Linked DNA regions of Homo sapiens: region 2 is linked to region 1. Evidence: fine-mapped expression QTL. A gene starts in region 1. The other region holds a variant in brackets. All regions are shown on one strand. Distances are from middle to middle.

Region 1 (5,303 bases):
TCTATGTGTTTCCTTTTATGCCAAGTTATCTTTGACTATACGCTGACATATTTTTGAAAAATTATTGTACAAATGATTCTAGGCCCAATATGATAATACCTTCCAGCAGAGTCTTTTCATTTGCTGGGGTATTTTCAAATGCCTGAGGATACTACTTGTCCAAGGCCACTTTAATCCAAGATCAGGGCTTTAGGTTCCTTGGACTGCCCATATGATGAGTATCTAGGTTTACAAGACCACACAAGGGCTGGTTACTTATAGGTCACCATTAACCCAAAGGGGTAGCCACTCAGGGTCTCAGCTGAGAGTGACAAGAATGCTAATCAAATCCGCTACTTCCTTGGGCCTTGAGCTTTCACTTTTTTCCTTATGATGCCACCAAAACTGCAGCTCAATTTCATAACTCTCTTCCAGATTCAGTAGAAGCCATCAGGACAAAAGAGGATTCTAGTGCTGGGCTTTCCCCCCTGGGTTCTTGTCTTCTTCCGGATTTTAGCCTCAGTATCTCTCAGTTCTTTATGACAATTATTTCTTTCTACATTCAGCCAGTTTGTTTCATTGTCCTCACTGGAACAGCTAGTCCAAGTTACCTAGCTGGCCATTACCAGAAGGAGATGTGTGCTCTTCTTGCCCCCAGTCCCTCTCCCTCCCAGTTTTTCCTTCAGTGCGAAGGTGCCACTCTGATTGTATCATTCCCTTGCACAAATCCTTCAGAAGATTACTGTTGACTCTAAAATAAAATACAATTTTTTATTTTAGAAAATTAGGACCCAGATTCTTTCTCTTGCCTCATTCATTACACAAGAATTTATTGTACACTGAGTGTGTGTTGCTTACAAAGTCAGGTTCTGCCTAATCTCTCACCTCTTACCTATCTCACCTGTTGTCTTACCTCCAAACTTACTCTACCCTTTAGCCAAACTGGAATATTCACTGTCGTGTGCAGAGCTGGGTCAGAACACAGATGGGCTAACTTCCAGATGAGTGTTCTTTGTCCTACACCATTATCCCATATTCAGGTTTAAGCTTATTCAATCTAGATCTTTATGGATATTATAATAAATTAACTAGGCAAACGCTCAATAAGTACAAATTATAATGGCATTTTTGTATTTCTTGTATTTTGGCTATCCTTTTCTTGTGAGTCAGAAATTTCAATGAAGCATTACCTCTAGGGAGACCCGAAGTAGGGGAGGGCCTTCTGGGATGTAAGTTCTGGAAGAGAATTCATCGTTGCCGTCAACTTTTTGTCAATCTTCATAGTCACAAGGGTACCTAAGAACAAAATTTCAGGCTTCAGGCTTGTTTCCCCTAACAAATGAGCGACCAGACCAATTGCCTGTGGAATTTGATTCCTCAGTGCTGGGAACATCCCACATTCAAACAAATCTGCTCCCACCTGCTGGTGGTTGCTAGAACTTCCAGTCAAAGCTGACTTAGACTGAAAACGCACTCTTCTCGAAGTAAGCAGACCTGGAAATGTGGTTTTTAGTTTTGGCCTCTGCTACTGTGTGACCTTGGGCCAATCCCTTTTTCTTCTCTGGGCTTCAGTTTCCCTACATTACAACCGAGGTGGCTGGACAAAATGCCCCGGAATGGCTCTAACATTTTTGGCAAACAAGGATTTTCTCTACAAGGACGTCTGTGTGACCAGAGGTGATGGGACAGGACTGGTAGCAGTAGAGGTGGGTTTAATCTGCTCTCATATGTGATCCTGACAAATGGGTCCCATCATCCTTTTTTCTTACTGCAATGGCCAGGGAAAGAGGGGAGATGGGAAAGAAAGGTGTGAGGGTGTTCTGCTCATTAAAAGAAGGCAGGAAACTATGAGAGACATTTTTCATAAAAGTATGGTTCTAAAATGATTTTAAAGGGGGAGTGGTAAAAGAGTTAAACCCTCAGCTGTGCAAAACTGCTTGGCCTACCAGGTAAGTCATGCTTTGCTGGGCACCAGCAATCTCAACTCATTTCATCAAATACTGAGGGGAAAAAAAGGGGGAGATGTTGTGTTTCTCAGTGAATGTTCTAGGTAACCAAAAGTAAACCTGAAATCCGTTTTGATTTCAACTCTTCTCAATGGTGTGATGTGGGAGGTGGCATGCCGGTGAACATGGCAGCTCTGTTTGTTGATTACCCATTTGCCCTATGGGCTCTGGTGAGGCCACTTTCTAAGCTTTCTGAACTTGCTTTGTCATGGGATAGGAAGGACATAGGAAATTGGGTGGAGGCATTTCTTATCCTCCACGATTTTTCTGTCCCATAGGGGCAGAGTCTGAGGTAGTGGAAAGAATAAGAGCCCTCTAGTCAAGATGTCAGGCTTTTCCATATGATGGGGTCAGAACCCAGGAACATTGGCATACCCTGGTCTCCAGTGCCTAACTCCCTTGAACACCCCAAACACTGACCTTGGCCTTTTTTTCCCCTTCTATGGTGTCAGCCATGAACCTTCATTCTGCATCCCCTGGCTGATGAGACACAACCACATCTCAGAGAGACCCCAGTTGGTGAGCCCTTCCAGTTCCTTGAGTCTTTTTCCTGAGTACCCAAAGTTGGGGTGAAGAGCACTCTAGGAAATTTAAGTCTTAAGCAACTCTTGGGCTCCTGTAGCCCAATGTCCATCCTGAGGGAGGAGCAGTCCTGCTGTGGCCAGAGCCCTGTAACAAAACCCATTAGGATCCTCCTTGACCTTATCCAGAGACAAGGCACGCGGGGTTACTGGAGGCTCAAGGGTACGGAGTCACCAGCCGTTGGGTACCTCCTGACGCCCAAAATTGTCCAAGTCTTTCAGAATGCAGATTCAGCCATGGCGGTCAAATTACCACACTCCCTTCACCATCAAATACAACTCTCGGGCACAGGCCCTTTCTTCCAAGAAAAACACACATTTCGCATTTTGCAGAGAAGAGACAGGACCCAGTGCCCCTTGAGGCGGATTCCTGGCCCAGCCCCCAAGGAGCCAGCCCTCCTCCCCCTCCCCCAGCCCGGCCCCGCCCTGCCTGTGTCTGGAGATGGCCGGGGGATGACTGCAGAAGCCTGAAGGGGCGGGGGCCGGGCGGCGCGCAGGCTACGGGCGGAGGCAGGAGCGCGCGCCTTTTTGTGCGGCTCCTGGCAGCTGTCCGATTGGCTGGGCCTGCGATGCCGTCGGAGTGGGCGGAGCCAGCAGCGAGCTGGGATCTGTGCCCAGTCGCAGCCAGGAGCGGCCGCAGACGGAGCGCACCTCGCAGCTGCCGGGCGGGCCCTGGGGGGAGCTGCGTCCAGCAGAGCTGCTGGGTGGTTGCTCCTCCCGGGCTCTCATCTCCGGTATCCGGGCCGACCCCCGCACCCCCTACTTCCCTTGCCCTCGCTGCTCTCTCCTTAGAGGCGACTCTTTGGGGAAGGGCCAGCAATCCCGCCTTCCCCGGCCCCAGTAGTCACCCACTCTCCCACCCCACCTCTGTTCCTTTTCGCGGCCCCGTCTCCCGCGCCCTCAGGCGCCCAGAACGCCCCGGCCATGGGCATCCGAGGCATGCTGCGAGCCGCAGTGATCCTGCTGCTCATCAGGACCTGGCTCGCGGAGGGCAACTACCCCAGTCCCATCCCGAAATTCCACTTCGAGTTCTCCTCTGCTGTGCCCGAAGTCGTCCTGAACCTCTTCAACTGGTAAGCGGGCACCGCCAGGCTAGGCACGGCGGGGACGGGAATGGAGACGGGCAGACGACCTCTGGCCTCTTGGACGGAGCGGGCTGGGGGCGACTCGGGCTGGGGGGTACTCGGACCCGGGCTCGCTGAGCCCTGGCGCCCGGGCCCTGCCTGTTGGCCCCTAGAAGGGGTAAGGTGGGAGTGGGGTGTTGAAATGGAGCCCTGTGCTTCCGCCCACCTGTTACTGCGGAGCTTGACTGAGCCCTGCGTGTGCCTAAACCGCAGCCCGAGGGGTGGGGGCGGGGGTCGCCCTCGTCCCAGGATCTGTCCATCCATCCCCAAGGATTTAAGGTTCCCGGCAGCTTTCCCCAGCTTTGGCACCTGTGGGATTGGGGAGGAGGGTACAGGATGACGGGCAATTCACAAAACATAGACAGGAGAGACACCTGTTTGAGTCTACATTTTAGTCCATTTCCTGAGGCGCGCGCGCGTGCATGCATGTGTTGAGGGGATGAGGGACTCTTTCCAATGCGGCAGATAGAAATGATTAACTCAAACCCATCGGAGCCCAGACAGTGCGATCGTGTCTGAATAAACACGAACCGTGTGGTCTGGGATGGGTGTGCTTTTGTACTTAGTCGTGTGAAAATATTTGAAGACTCCGGTTTTTTTCTCTTTTTGATTTTAAGTTTGTTTGGGTGTGCGAGTATCTGAAGCCTTTACATGTAAATCACACAGAAATGTGTATTTGGGGTGGCCACAGATCCTGAGCGTTGGCACATGGGTAATGTGTGCTTGGAAACAGGTGGGAATGCATTGCTTTAATTTGGGAATAATTCATGTGCACATTTTGGGATGCTGCAAAATGAAATTTTTGATTAAAGATGATTAGGAATAATTTTTAACAATGTTTAAATGGCAAGCCAGAAATTAACATGTACTCATAAAGGGGGGGGGGGTGTTTGGCAAGGTTCCAGCAGACAGCCCTGCAGTGCCCTTAACCCAACATACCATACTGCGCCACTGAACATGCACACATGCGCGTGCGCACACACACACACACACACACACACAAACACACACATTTGCAGGGGCTGACGTTCCCTGGGCAATGCGTCAAAGATTTGAAGAGTCACAGTGATGCCGGGGCCTGTTCTGATTCGCAAGCCCTGTTGGGGAAGGAGCCCTGTTGAAGGTCTAGGTGAATTGGGTGAGCGTGTCAGAGATCTCTGGAAAAGCCAGCTCTCCACAGAGCTGGGCTGAGTCCACTTACCTATGCTCACCCAAGACACCTCCAGGGTGGAAGCACATGCTCAGCAAGAGATATACCTGCTCCCAGAATAGATGTCTTTCCGATGAGAGCTCTGAGCCCCAAGAATCTGAAATGGTTTGGTTGGATGAGGGTCGTAAATCTCAGCTACACCAGCAAGGCTCTCTCTGTGTGTCTTATGCCATATGCCAAGTCTGGAAAACAGAGTTGTGCAGAAACAAGGTTGACATAAAAGTGACTAAAAAATGCCCAGCCCTAGCCCAGGTAAGGGGAAATGAAACTTTGAGCTCATCTTACTAGGGCACTGAGAGCAAAAGATGACTTTTCCTGGGGCAATCAGGTGCCCCTGGCAGGAGGACCCCCACCAACCTAGAAAACAGCGTCGAGGCTGATTGCAAGATGGGGCTCTTGAAGG
Region 2 (5,366 bases), 910 kb before region 1:
GAAGTCATGAGAAGACAGGTGAGGAGGGACCCAATCGGTGGGTGCAAGCAGAATCACAGTGCCTTGGAATAGGCAGGGCTCGACAGCTGGGGTCCTGTAGTCCCTTACAGTCATCTTTCCCTTTAGCGCTGGAGGTGGGGCAGATTCCCTTCCTCTTCCTCCTCATCCCCATGGCTCTGACACCCCGCATAGATGTCCAGCCTCAAACTCACTGCTGTCCCTGAGATGCTGGTAGGGAATAGGGGCAGATAAAAGGTGGAGGAAGAGGGAACATACAAGGATAAGGGTTCTATGTCCAGAGAGAGAGTGATACCTAAGGGTCTGAGAGAGGGGTCGCCTTTGTTCAAACCAAACCCAGACCTTCTTAGGAGGAGATCCTTTCTTCCTTGGCTCCCCGGCGCAGCTGGAATGGGCTGGTCTCTTCCAGAGAAGGGAAGTGAACATAAGGGAGAAGGCAAAAGTGGGGCCTGCAGACGTAGCAGCCAGGTCTTTGGTCCCGCGGACCTGGCCCAGCCTCCTGCTTCTCACTAGGGGCGCTCCCCGCTCCACCGCCAAAGGGCAATCAAGCCCCTTCTTGCTCTAACTTTATGCTTTTCCCATGGCTGTGCTGTGGGCTTCTGGAGAAGAGCCTCGCTCAGCAGCCCTGCCTTTGACTCCTCTGCAGCTGTATGCAGTCAACCGGCGTCTGCGCGCCCTGGAGGAACAGGGCGCCACCTGGCGCCACAGGGAGACCCTGATCATCGCCGTGCTGGTGTCGGCCAGCATTGCCAACCTGTGGCTGTGGATGAACCAGTGATCGCCCCAGCGCGGCCTCCGTATTGGAGCCCTCCCTGCTTCCCCTTCTTTCTTTCCTCTTTCCCCAGGCCGCCACTGCCCTTGCCCCTTTCATCTCCCAGCAGCCCTCAGGAGCGTCAGGATCATTTTCAACTCTGGTTAGGCCTCCTACCTGGGGAGGCCAGGTCACTGCACTGGGAGGTCCTGGCTGCTGCGAAGCTGGAGGAGGACTGCGTGGGCTGAGATGCCACCCTTTGAAGGGTGAACAGCATGGCGGCATCTGGGCCCCACAGTAACACCTAGTGGCAACCTTGCCTTCCTGACCTCAGCGGCCCTTCTGTTCCATCCTCTGTGGGCAGGGGTGTGGCTTTGTTTTCCTCCCTCGTTTGCTTCCACCTCGTGCACAGCGCTCTGCACAGACAACACGCTCAATAAAAGTTCAGCCATAGCAGCAAAACCCTGTGGCTGAGGTTCCTGTGTCCAGCACTCACTGGGGGCAACAGTGGAGGTGGGGTGCGCTGGGAAACAACAGCTCCTCTTCACAGAGACCTTGTGGCTGGGACTGAGCCTCTGCCATTGCCCCAGGGGCCCTGGTTCCCTCCTCCCTTTCACCTCCCCCACCTCCCTGTCCCCAGCCCCAGCTTTGCAAAGTTCTTCCTGTTGGGCTCATGCAAACCAGTGCTTGTGGGGGTGTGGTTCTGGGAGCATGTCTGCGCTGTGTTGCAGGGAAGCAATCAGAGGAAATCTCCTGAAAGGGACCAGAAACCTCATTTGCGCAAGAGGAAATTGAATTCCAGAGAGAGGAAACATGTCCCTGGGTCATCCAGTGAGACAGGGCCTGGATGTGAGTTCTCTGGCGTGAGTTCTCCTGAGTCCTACGCTAGGGCTTGGCCTGCCTCCTGCAGACAGACTCACTGGAGATGAGGTCCTGCCTCAGCTCTGGAGGCTGAACGGGAGCTACACATACCCCTCACCCTACCCACCACACACTCTGGGTCCACAGCCCATGAAGCACACCTCAGACAGGGTGAATAGCTGGGCTGTCCAGTGGGGCTGAGCCTGAGAGGTGGAGAATGTTGCCTGCCATGTGGGGGCCTGACCACAGTGCAGATGTGCCTGGTGCAGGAGGCCTGCAGAGGAGCTGCAACCCCTTTCCCTGGGACCAAGGGCTCAACACACATGTCTCTGACCCAGAACTTTCTCATTGGCTTTAGTTGCTAAGTGCACCTTCCCTAATCCCCCAAATCTGTCAAGGATTCTCCATCTGTAAAGACTGGGAAGCGTGTTAGTCCCTAGGTATGAAATGAACGTGTGTGTCTGTGTATGTGAGAGAGAGAGACAGAGAAGAGACAGGGAGAGGAGGGGAGGCGAGGAGAGAAGAAAGGATGGAGGAAGGGAGAGGCAGAGAGAGAGATACAGTCAGCGATACAGAGCGGCAGAGGGAGGGAAGTTAGAGTAGAGAGAGAGAGAGAGAGAAGCTTGAGTCCCAGAGCCTGCTCTGTCCCTGCTCCACCTCTTTCTCTCTGGTCCTCAGTGGGCTCCTATACAATGAGGGGGTTCTTCCACGCCTGACACTCTAGGGCTTGCAATACTTCTAAGATGA[G/A]GATGCAGGGCCTCCTGTCAGCCCTGTGGGACACGAGGCACGTGGCCCCTGGAGCCTGGGCCCTGCTCAAAGCAGAGAAAAGGACACCTAGGAAAGAAACACCAGAGAGAAAGATTCTCTCTCTGGTCCCAGAGCACAGAGGTAATCAAGTGCCACAGGAAGCCCCTCTGCAGAATGGGGAAACAGCAGCACCCAGATATGAGTACTTCTGGCCAGGAGAGCCAAGAGGGCCAGGGAGTACCAGGGGTGTTCCCTGTCCTCTGCAAATGGGGCCTGGGGCCCCAGGAGTCACCCATGGGCTAGATGGAAGACTGGGGGACCTCCTTGCAGGCCGCCCCTCCCCTTCCTGCAGCTTCAGGACAGAGCAGGACCCAAGATACAGAGGAATATTAAGGGAAGCAGGGAGATGGAGCAGGGGCAGCACGTGCAGCTTCTTGCCATCAGCCCAGTGCTCCAACTGCCATGAGTCCAGCCTTCACACTGTCTACCCCGGGCTGCCCCTTTCTCCGGCCCCAGTCAGGCCCCACAGGGAAGCTCAGAGGAAGAGGAGGCTGCAGCTGGGAAGGGCTGGGTCTGCCCTTTGGGACCTGAGTGTTTGTGAGCCTGCACAGACATGGACATGTTTGCAGAAAAAGTCTGGCTGAAAATATGTTGTGAAACAAAGGTTCACCCTTGGGAGCAATTTAGTTGAGTTGCAAACAAACAGCACGGCAGTGCCCTAGAGGAACGTCTCCTGAGCCAGGTGGGCTCATAAGGAGCCCGTGGCTGGGCCTCCACCCTGCCTTTCTGTGTGACCATTTGGCTGGTTCCCAGCAGGGCTGGAGGCCAGTTCCTAGAAGGGCATTCCTGCTCTATCTCTAGAACTCCCTGCCCCACCTAGAAGACCTCAGGAAGCTCCTGAGAGGAACTGGAGTCAGAGCTGCCCAGTCTGGGCCCCTCTGCAATGTTCCTTAAGGGGCATGGGGACCATATTGTGGGGGCTGGCACATCTGTGATTCCCAAGCCTCTGGGAGATCCAGGGAGGCTCGGGGGCAGAGTGCCAGGAGGCAAGTTGGCACCTCCTGCCTGGCCCTCTGGCTCTGACCCACCTAGAGCATTTGCCCATCTGATTGCATTTCTCTGCCAAACTGTCCTTGCCTTGCCCAACCTCTCCACCCTGAGCCCAGCCCTTCCTCCAGCAAGCCATGAACTTCCCCATGGTGAAGCAGGATGCTGTGGGTGAATGAAGGAGGGAAGGAACTCATTCTTACTTGGGGGTGGGGGAGGGGATTCTCCTGGCGTGCTGTTTTTCTCTAGTCTTTGAAGCTTCCCAGGGGCTGCCCAGGCTTAGTATTAGAGGGGTACACATCAGTCCTCCACTGGATCAGTAGCTTCTTGAGGGCACAAGGTAGCCTGCATTGTCTTCTGCACTCCTGGAACAAGTAAAGGACTGGCAGGATGGCCTCTGATTAGGGTCCCCAGAGATTGAATCTAGCCCTGGTCTTCCCCTCCTGGCCTTTAGGGTATGCCTTCTGTTGAAAACCTTTCCCCACCAAAGGGAGCCAATTCTATTCTTCGCTTCCTACGGCACACCTACTCTGTGCCATGCACTTTGCATCTTAAAAATATTTAATTACGCAAGTTGTGCATGAACACATTCTCCCCAAAAAGGCAAACATTGCAGGCCTAGCTAACACAGTCCCTTGCACCCCAAATGCCAAGTCCCTCCACTGAATTATTTCCCATGGTTTGGTTGGTGCGTATCCTTGCGAACTCTCTATGCTGTTCCATGCAGATTATGCGCACCTGTATGTATCCCAGGCTTTGCACGCAGGATGTCATTTAAGCCCCTCCTAGCAGCCCCCTGAGGGAGTGGCTTGTCTTCCCAGCTGGCTGCGCAGGTGGGCAAAGCTTTAATCCTCCATTTATGTAGTTCTCTGCCCTGCCAAGTGGGCCCCTGGTCCCCCGCCAGTCCTGGTCAAAAGCTGAAACTCAATATTCCAGTTCTTTTGTCACAGGCTGGCTTCCTGGCAGCTGGTGGAAGGTGGGAAGAGGAAGGTGGGCATGTGAGGAGGGGTACATGAGGGTGCATGGAGGGGACTCTGGTGTACCCAGGAGCAGCCTGAAATCCTGGCTTCTTGGAAAGGAGCCCAAAGCTCACTGCCCCAAGGGTCTTGCCTTGTTTCCCTTCCCTAACCCCAACCCTTCTTGGAGGCCAAGTCCAGGGGACCTGGCAGAGAAGGTATGGATTTTCCCCTCAGGCCAGCCCTACCCCAGGTACCTCTTCTCTCAGATTTCTCCCTGGCTTGACCTCAGATCAGGTGGACTGGTTGAGATTGTGCCAAGGTCTGGAGGCAAGTACACCAGGGCTGTGAGCTGGTGGGGTTGAATCCCCAGACACATAGCTCTGAGCATGCTCCGTGCAAGGCAGGGCTCCTCAGGGAGCTTGGGAGGGGCTGGCTTCTGGATCTGGGCAGGCAAGCAGCTTCTACAGCCAGGCAGCCCAGCACCCAGCCCTCGCCTGCCAACAGCCTGGGGTGTACAGTGCCCACAGACAGGCCAGCTTCTCCATTGGGCAGGTGACACCCTGGGGCAGCGTCTTGAGTTTGCCTTAGCCATGAGCATGAGCTCTTCTTGGCCTCTGCCAGCTTCTCCTGTTGGCCTCAGGCAGGGTGGGGCAGCTCTCTGACCCCGAGGCTGCAGCTAAGTTGTCAGGGGCTCAAGGGCCCCGCTGGCCTGAGGGGCAGGAATGGCAGGAGATCTCTGTTAGCTCCAGATGCCGATGAGCCCCCAGTGGTTTGTCTCTGACTGGAGGTTGTGCAGAAGGACCAACGGATGCTGACTGGCCAGGAGAGCCCCTGCCTCTGAAGCCATCTGATTGGTGAGGAAAGCGGCTGACCTTGGGCTGATACCTTTCTGTGACCACAGGCCAGTTACCTCCATGGGGGTACAGAACTGGAGTCCGTGAAAAGTGCGTGGGCCCTAGAACCTGGCTTGACATGGGTCTTCA

Alleles and levels. Alleles are on the strand shown, and positions count from the first base shown. SD is a standard deviation of normalised expression in the study named.
In carriers of allele G in region 2, the expression in esophagus mucosa of the gene that starts at base 3,183 in region 1 tends to be higher than with A alone (small effect, 0.13 SD a copy in GTEx).

What was found. PIP is the estimated chance that this variant, and not a neighbour inherited with it, causes the effect. A credible set is the group of variants that fine-mapping cannot tell apart.
Region 2: its variant is the best candidate, but not a certain one, in a credible set for the expression of GABRQ in esophagus mucosa (GTEx, PIP 0.51).

Annotation. Positions count from the first base shown.
Region 1 is chrX:152,634,713-152,640,015 of GRCh38, forward strand. It overlaps GABRQ (gamma-aminobutyric acid type A receptor subunit theta), which reads left to right and starts at 3,183. Exons shown (of 9, transcript NM_018558.4): 1 at 3,183-3,639. The coding sequence starts at 3,491. It overlaps MAGEA3-DT (MAGEA3 divergent transcript), which reads right to left. Exons shown (of 5, transcript XR_938525.3): 3 at 4,892-5,082; 4 at 1,170-1,275.
Region 2 is chrX:151,721,964-151,727,329 of GRCh38, forward strand. It overlaps FATE1 (fetal and adult testis expressed 1), which reads left to right. Exons shown (of 5, transcript NM_033085.3): 4 at 1-18; 5 at 665-1,231. The coding sequence ends at 796. Among named protein-coding and RNA genes, the nearest start is that of FATE1, 8.6 kb to the left of the region's middle. The variant G/A (reference allele first, on the strand shown) is at 2,378.